Linked DNA regions of Homo sapiens: region 2 is reported to be linked to region 1. Evidence: microRNA targets listed by miRTarBase, many of them from high-throughput screens and not tested one by one. Region 1 holds a microRNA gene; the other region holds the end of a gene's coding sequence.

Region 1 (4,389 bases):
AGAATTCAACACATTCCAACACTGTCTTCTGTTGAGCTGTAGGAGGACTGCCTGTGGAGGGACATGGGTTCTATGCTACCTTGCAGGTTTTCCCTGGGGCTTGTGATCACTGTCTCCTTGGTGACATGCAATCTGGGAGTGCTTTCTGGAGTCTGATAAGAACATACTGGCACATTGCCTGTGACGTGTGGGACCCAGGCATTTTCAGTGCTGAGGTGAGTCCTTGATTGTAACTGATGGGGACTGGTATCTTAACTCCAGGTTACTGAAGACTAGGAATTTCTTGCCTTACAGTAAAATTGCAAAGAAGAGTAGCATAAGAGGTAGATCAGAAGACTGCAGAATAGATTAACAAATGAATGCCCAAATGAGGATGCTAAACTTGGATTTGCATCAAGAAGACAGATATTGGTCGGGCGTGGTGGCTCACGCCTGTAATCCCAGCACTTTGGGAGGCTGAGGCGGGTGGATCATCCTGGCTAACACGGTGAAACCCCGTCTCTACTAAAAAAATACAAAAAAATTAGCCGGGCGTGGTGGCAGGCGCCTGTAGTCCCAGCTGCTGGGGAGGCTGAGGCAGGAGAATGGCATGAACCCAGGAGGCGGAGCTTGTAGTGAGCCGAGATCGTGCCACTGCACTTCACCCTGGGCGACAGAGCGAGACTCTGTCTCAAAAAAAAAAAGGACAGGTATTAGGATAGTTTTGAAGCCCACTTGCTCCTATCATGGCATTGAAGCATCAGTTTGCTGCCAATCACTCCTTCTTCTGTGTTCATAGACAGGACTGTGGAAATGTACACTTGGATTCTTTCACAGGTAATGCTGAGAAATTTAAAACCAAAAACGGCCGGGTGCCGTGGCTCCTGCCTGTAATTCTAGCACTTTGGGAGGCTGAGGCGGGCGGATCACAAGGTCAGGAGTTCGAGAGCAGCCTGGCCAATATGGTGAAACCCCATCTCCACTAAAAATACAAAAATTAGCCTGGCATAGTGGCGGGCCCCTGAAGTCCCAGCTACTCAGGAGACTGAGTAGACGAGGAGAATGGCTTGAACATGGGGTGCAGAGGTTGCAGTGAGCTGAGATCGCACCGCTGCACTCCAGCCTGGGCAACAAGAGTGAAACTCTGTCTCAAAAAAAAAAAAAAATTTGAAATTAAAGTGTATGATTAGAGTGCATGATTGGTTCTGACTGGATGTGTAACATGTGCATAGCCTTCTCATAAATCAAAGGTTTTTATGTGAAACCTACCACTAGTGATGTAACTGAATTTGTGTAAATGCTGGTGTGTCTGCCTTTTCCTAGCAACTCCCTGGGCAGCCTGAGGATTCTTTGAGGTTATTTTTTTTCAAGATCTGGCTGGGAGCTTCTGCATGAGTGCTGTGTGAACGTCCTCCATCTGCAGTGTGAGGACAGCGAACCCTAGTGTGAGTTAACCACGTAGGAAGAGTTTGAAGTCAGACATGACATTCAGACTGAGGTCCTCAAAACTGAGGGGCATTTTCTGTGGTTTGAAAGGAAAGTGCACCCAGTTTTGGGGATGTCAATTGTGAATCCTCATCATAACCCATCCCCAGTCCCCCATCGCATTGCACCACATGGATGCACCCAGTGGACTGGCCTTTGCTTTTCTATTGTTTCTTTTTCTCTCCACTGCAATCAGCTTTCTCACGTTGAATGCATTCCATTTTCTAAGCGCTCTCCTAGGCAAAAATCCCTCTAATGCAAAGCAAAAATGTCTGTTATGCAACATTGTTCTGAGACCCCAGGAATTGCAGTTAACTTGGCTCCTTAGTATGTGCTTCCTAAGGCGGGTGGGGTGGCTCGCGCCTGTAGTCCCAGCACTTTGGGAGGCAGGCGAGGCACTTGAAACCCTGTCTCTACTAAAAATACAAAAATTAGCTGGACATGGTGGCATGTGCCTGTAATCCCAGCTACTTGGGAGGTGCAGACAGGAGCATCGCTTGAACCCAGGAGGCAGAGGTTGCAGTGAGCCAAGATAATGGCACTGTACTGCAACCTGGGTGACAGAGCGAGACTCAAAAAAAAAAAAAAGTGCTTCCTGTGAAGGTTTCCTTTCCCTTCTGCCCCCCATACCAGTCCATCTATTTAGTAGATGTCCTGGTTTCTACCCAGGATATCATGGACCAGGGGTTCTGTCTTCCAGCCTTGAGTACAATGGTGCGACTATAGCTCACTGCAGTCTCAACCTCCTGGGCTCAAGTGATCATCCTGCCTCAGCCTCCAAGTAGCTGGTATTACAGATGCACGTGCCCCCATTCCCAGAGGTTCTTAAATTTATGACAAAAACCCAGAAGCTTGGCTGAAGCAGCTTGTTGGGGCCCACCCACAGATTTTGTTTGGTGCCATAGACCTGGGTTGGGATCTGGGGAGCCATTTTTCTTAGTCTCAATGTAAATGTCTAAGCATTTTCTTTTTTTCTTTCTTTTTTTTTTTTTGAGACAGGGTTTCGCTCTTGTTGCCTAAACTGGAGTGCAGTGGCACAATCTCGGCTCACTGCAACCTCTGCCTCCTGGGTTCAAGTGATTCTCCTGCCTCAGCCTCCCAAGTAGCTGGGATTACAGGTGTGCACCACCATGCCCGGCTAATTTTTTTTTATTTTTTTATTTTTTTTATTTTTTGAGATGGAGTCTTGCTCTGTTGCCCAGGCTGGAGTGCAGTGGTGTGATCTCGGATCACTGCAAGCTCCGCCTCCTTGATTCATGCCATTCTCCTGCCTCAGCCTCCCGACTAGCTGGGACTACAGGTGCCCGCCACCACGCCCAGCTAATTTTTTTGTATTTTTAGTAGAGACGGGGTTTCACTGTGTTAGCCAGGGTGGTCTCGGTCTCCTGATCTCGTGATCTGCCTGCCTCGGCCTCCCAAAGTGCTGGGATTACAGGCTTGAGTCACTGCCCCTGGCCAATTTTTTGTATTTTTAGTAGAAATGGAGTTTCACCATGTTTCCTGCCTATCTCTCTATGTATTTAGACAGGGTCTCACTATGTTGCCCAGGTTGGTCTCAAACTCCTGGACTCAAGCAATCCTCCTGCCTCCACCTTCCAAAGTGCTGGGACTACAGGCTTGAGCCATCCTGCCTGACCATTTGAGAGTTTTTTTTTTTTGAGATGGAGTCTCTCTCTGTCACCCATGCTGTAGTGCAGTAGTGTGATCTTGCCTCACTGCGACCTCTGCCTCCCGGGTTCAAGCAATTCTCCTGCCTCAGCATCCCCAGTAGCTGGGATTACAGGCGCCCGCCACTACACCCAGCTAATTTTTGTATTTTTAGTAGAGACAGGGTTTCACCATGTTGGCCAGGCTGGTCTCGAACTCCTGACCTCAGGTGGTCTGCCCACCTCCGCCTCGCAAAGTGCTGGGATAAGAGGCGTGAGCCACCGTGCCTGTCTTCAACAATGATTTCTAATTGCATTTTATGGTGGTGATTGAACATAATGTACTTTGGTCCTTCTCCATTGTATGCCTCGTGTATTATGTGTCTCATAACGTCTGTCCCGTCCTATGCTATGTGTGCATTTGAATGTTGGGGAGGGTTCAGTAGATGTCCATTGAGTTGGTTTGCAAACTTATTTGAAACTTCTACTTACTTCTGCCTAATTCTGCTTATTATTGAGAGTGGACTGCTCTGGGATGCCTTTTGTTTGCACTCTGATTTCAGATGGACCCTGAGAATGCTCAAGCCCCAAACCCTCCTTGGGAAGTGAAGCTCAGGCTGTGATTTCAAGCCAGGGGGCGTTTTTCTATAACTGGATGAAAAGCACCTCCAGAGCTTGAAGCTCACAGTTTGAGAGCAATCGTCTAAGGAAGTTGATGGCAATGTTAATAGTTTTTTAAACAAGCATGAAATCAGATTCCTGTGTTTACTTCTGGATGCTGTTGATCCAGGAAATGTACTTAGAAAATTCATTTTAACGGAAATAGTCATAAGCGTCTTGGTAATTTCATGAAGCTACAGTGAGTAAATTGCCTGAGAATTTCCCTGCCTGAAAGGTCTTCAGGAGTGTAATTTTTTTTTAATATAGCTTATTTAATACAAATAGAGATGCGGTCTCACTCTTGCCTAGACTGGTGTGCAGTGTCATGTTCACAGCTCACTGCAGCCTCTCAACCTCCGGGGCTCAAGCATCCTCCTGCCTCAGCCTCCCAAAGTGCTGGAATTACAGGTGTCAGCCACCACTCCCTACTCATACTTGTATATTTCTCTTTAAATTCTGTTGAGGTTTTATGGCCTAGCCTGTGGTCTATCCTGGAGAATATTTGTGTGCATGACAATGTGTATATATATATATATATATATATTTTTTTTTTTTTTTCTTTTTTTTGAGATGGAGTTTCACTCTTGTTGCCCTAGCTGGAGTACAGTGGCATGAATCT
Region 2 (4,389 bases), not on the chromosome of region 1:
AGATCGCGCCACTGCATTCCAGCCTGGGCGACAGAGCAAGACTCCGTCTCAAAAAAAAAAAAAAAAAAAAAAAGCCAGATGCAAAAGGATGATTAAAGGAGTCTACATACATGGAAAGTAGAATAGTGATTAGGAGGGGATGGGTAGAGGCAGGAATGGAGAGTTATTGCCCACTAGATACAAAATTTATTTGGAATGATGAAAAAGTTCTAACACCAGAGCTGATGGTTATACAATATTTTGAATGTACTTAATACCACTGAATTGTACACTTAAAAACAGTTGAAAATAAATGGGTACAGAGTTTGTCTGGGATGATGAAAAAGTTCTGAAGATAGTGGTGATGGTTGCAACACAATTTGAATATACTTAATGTCATTGAACTGTATACTTAAAAATGGCTACAATGAGGCCAACGTGGTGGCTCACTCCTGTAATCCCAGTACTTTGGGAGGCCAAGGAGGGCAGATCACTTGAGCCCAGGAGTTCAAGACCAGCCTGTGCATCATAGCAAGATCCCTGTCTCTACAAAACAATTTTTAAAATTAGCTGGGCGTAGTGGTGCAACACCTGTAGTCCCAGCTACTAGGGAGGCTGAGAGAGGAGGATCATTTGTGACTGGGAGATTGAGGCTGCAGCGAGCCGTGATTGTGCCACTGCACTCCAGCCCGGGTGACAGAGTGAGACCCTGTCTGAAAACTTAACAAAAGGGCTAAAATCATAAATTTTATGTTGTATTTTACAATAAAAAATTACCCAAAGAAAAAAGTCATACCCCTTCAACAGAGAAAAGTTTTAGGCTTACACCAGGGTTTCTTAACAGTGGCTGACATTTTGTGCTGGATAATTCTTTGTTGTGAGGAACTGTCCCGTGCAGGGATGTTTAGCAGCACCCCTGGCCTTGATGTGGTGACAAGACCACCTCCCCAGGTACTCCAGAAATTGCAAAATGTCACATGGAGGAGGGGGCTACATTCTTCCCCAGCAGAGAACCACTGGCCTGTACTCACTTGCTGACCCCGAGAACATCGTTTGAAACTTTGCTCTGTCCCGTCCTTCAGCTTGGCCCACACAGTCTCCCGTGGACATGGGAATTTTATTGGTTTCATCACATGCCACATGGATGGATACTGTTCAAATAAAGTTACCATGTGAATGTAGTTTCTCCCATGTTCATCCAGTAGAATGATAGAAACTTCTGGAGAAGTCACTTCAGCATGAAGTTTTTTAAAAATTTTTTTATTTTTTTGAGATGGAGTCTCCTCTGTCACCTAGGCTGAAGTGCAGTGGCGCAACCTCGGCTCACTGCAACCTCTGCCTCCTGAGTTCAAGTGATTCTCATGTCTCAGCCTCTCGAGTAGCTGGGACTACAGGCGCGCGCCACCACGCCCAGCTAATTTTTGTGTTTTTGTGGAGACAGGGTTTCACTACGTTGCCCAGGCTGGTCTCAAACTCCTGAGCTCAAGTGATCTACCTGCCTCGGCCTCCCGAAGTGCTGAGATTACAGGCATGAGCCACCGCGCCCGGCCTCTTTCTCCACGTTTTGACTGAGGCCATCTCCATGCATCTTTTCTCTTGACTGGAAATGTGGTGGAATCAAATAAAACAAATTTGACAATGGTTTAACAAAATTGTTTAATAAAATTTATAAAAATGCATCTTTGAGAATACTTTTCTCAGCTTGAATTGTTTTCCTTTTCCACCCCCAAAGAAAATACACAATTATCAGCACCCACACATGTATACACTCAAAACTACAGTGACATTCTCTACACAGAACTATATTCGATATAGCTTGAACTGCCGAAAAATCAAGACAATTCCAAAAAGTGATTGCAGGGTTGATTTTTTTCTCCAAAACACTTGAGAAACAGTAAAGCTATTTCAACAAAAGTCTTTTCTTTGATTGTCAAAAGTTGAAATTCACATTTAAATAAAAAGAGATCCAAATCAAGATCCTCACTACCCCCTACCCCTCAACTAACCCCCTTTAGGGCCACATTTTCTTCTTGCTCCTAAGAAAAAAATTTGGAATTTTGAATATTCTCGGTTTTCTGTGCACACCTGGAATTGGGCAAATGTGTTCAGCTCAGCCAGCATTTTCTGTAGACATCATCAAAAGCAGGCACTTGGGGATTCTGGGCTTTGAGTACAAACCACGGATCTTGTGTCAGAAACACATGTTGAGACTCCTCCATTCCTTCCAGAATTTTCAGAGATGAGGTAGACCCACCTCAATCATCCTCAGCATCAGTTTGCTAAATTGCCAGGCTCAATGACAAGCTCTCCTGCCATCTCCAAGCCCACTTTTCATAGTTCCGCTCTGTCTTTGGCTGCAGCACTTTAGGCACTATTCTAAGTCCTGGAGTATATCACTCTTGCTTCAGAGCTAAATAAACATTAATGAACACACTTACTCAGAACAAGTCACTGGATAGCTGCCCATTGCAAGTTACATACTCAGGAGATGAAAGAGGGAAGCCATTAAAGGTCTTCAGAGTAGACAATACCTAGTCAAGATGTGGCCAGACAAAGACACAAACTTCTTACCCTAAAAGAGCCCAATAATTTCTGCATCAGAGAACTCCTATCTTGGGCAAAGCAACTGAATTCAGGAGTGAGAGTTGATATTAAAACATGGAGGCTGGGCACAGCAGCTCATGCCCACAATCCCAGCACTTTGGGGGGCCAAGGCAGAAGGATTGCTTGAGGCCAGGAGTTTAAGACCAGCTTGGGCAACATAGCAAGACCCCATCTGTACAAAAAAATAAAAAGGAGGCTGGTGGGAGAACTGCTTGAGCCCCAGAGTTTGAGGTTACAGTGAGCTATGATCACATCACTGCATCCCAGGCCTGGGCGATGGAGCGAAACTGTCTCTTAAAAAATGGCAGGGAGTTGGGGAGCTGGGCAGGTGCAGTGGCTCATGTCTGTAATCCCAATACTCTGGGAGGCCAAGATGGGAGGATCACTTGAGCCCAGGAGTTTGAGACCAGCCTGGGTAACACAGGGAGACCCCGTCTCAAATATTTAAAAAATTAGTCATGCGTAGTGGTGCATGCCTGTGGTCCCAGCTACTTGGGAGGCTGAGGTGCAAGGATAGCTTGAGCCTGGGAGGACAAGGCTGCAGTGAGCTGTGATTGCACCACTGCACTCCAGCCTGGCCGATAGAATGAGACCCTGTCTTAAAAAAAAAAAAAAGGCAGAGGGACACACCAGTGTAGTAATGAGCAGAAGCACACAAATTTTTTTTAAAAAATTATATACACAAAACAACAGAACTAGAGTAGCTGACTTCTCCCCTTCTTTTTAAAAGTGAGACAAAATTCCTTAAGAAAATCTGCAAGGTGCTGGGTGAACCTTCTGATGCTAAAGTTGTTCTTCTGGAATATTAAAATTTGGGTATCTTTTGGACATCACCACCATGTAAAGAGTGATGGGAAAAAAAAAAAAGCTTTAAGAAATAAGTCGAAACTTTTCTAACACAAACTTATTAGAGCTATAAAGTGGAGAGAGTATAAAGCTATACTAACTGCATCACTAACCAGTCTCTTTTTTTTCCCCAGAAACTCATCTCAAGGGAAGGGAGCTGAAAAACCACCAGCAACGTGATTTCTGCATTTCCCAGCACATGGGTCTGGGGCCCGCCTCTCTCGAGTCCCCTAGTCGTCCTCGCCGCCTCCGTACATGTCAGCCAGCTTCTTGAAGCGATTGCCCCATTCGTTCAAGTAGTCATAGTCCTGGTCTTTGTCTGACTCTGAGGAGTTCAGGGAGCTCAGACTAGCAGCTTCGGAACCGCTTCCTTCATAGTCAAACACGAGCAGAGAATCATAAGGCGGGGCTGTGGGGTCAGTATCAGCCGCTTTCAGATTCTAAAGAAGAAGGGACAAAAGCATCTTTTAGTGAAAGGAAGGGCACACCTGTCATCTGGGGCAAGAAGTCTAGCAATATGTAAGGTACGACAATGCACCCAGACTTGTGGCACACCACGGAGCAGTGAACACCAACAACGTACATTTATACACACTGTCATGGAAGGATGCAGAAGCACAGGATATGTTGTTGATGGAAAGAGAAAGTGAAATGGTGAGTTATATGTAGGCAGGAGAGATGCAAGCACCAACCAGTCAGGATGGAGTCCCCATAGATCAGAGTGGGGCTGCCACACCACCAGCTGGGATGGGCAGAGCTGGAAGCTTTGCATACTGGTGCATGCAGGCTGCATTTCCACCCAGAAAGGCCTGGAAGGATAAATGCCAAATGCTTAACAGTTAAATCTGGGGAGTGGGGGTGTGGGAACTAAGGAAGGACTTGTATTTTTTTTCTTTTTCTTTTTTTTTAGAGACAGGGTTTCACTCTTGTCACACAGGCTGGAGTGCAATGGTGTGATTT

Evidence for each region. Region 1 holds the annotated microRNA hsa-miR-1323 (UCAAAACUGAGGGGCAUUUUCU, at 1,482-1,503, shown strand). A microRNA usually pairs through its seed, bases 2 to 8, with sites in the 3' UTR of a target mRNA and lowers its output. Matches are read on the target gene's strand: a 7mer-m8 pairs with bases 2 to 8, a 7mer-A1 pairs with bases 2 to 7 and ends in A, and an 8mer does both.
Region 2: miRTarBase lists CDH1 as a target of hsa-miR-1323. Seed matches in the 3' UTR shown: 8mer at 1,749-1,756.

The regions. Positions count from the first base shown.
Region 1 is chr19:53,670,497-53,674,885 of GRCh38, forward strand. MIR1323 (microRNA 1323) reads left to right here and starts at 1,472; the gene lies at 1,472-1,544. It overlaps MIR498 (microRNA 498), which reads left to right and starts at 3,701; the gene lies at 3,701-3,824. All of the region lies in intron 2 of LOC107985342 (a long non-coding RNA gene), which reads left to right.
Region 2 is chr16:68,832,770-68,837,158 of GRCh38, reverse strand. CDH1 (cadherin 1) reads right to left here. Exons shown (of 16, transcript NM_004360.5): 16 at 1,622-3,869. The coding sequence ends at 3,660. Among named protein-coding and RNA genes, the nearest start is that of TANGO6, 8.6 kb to the left of the region's middle.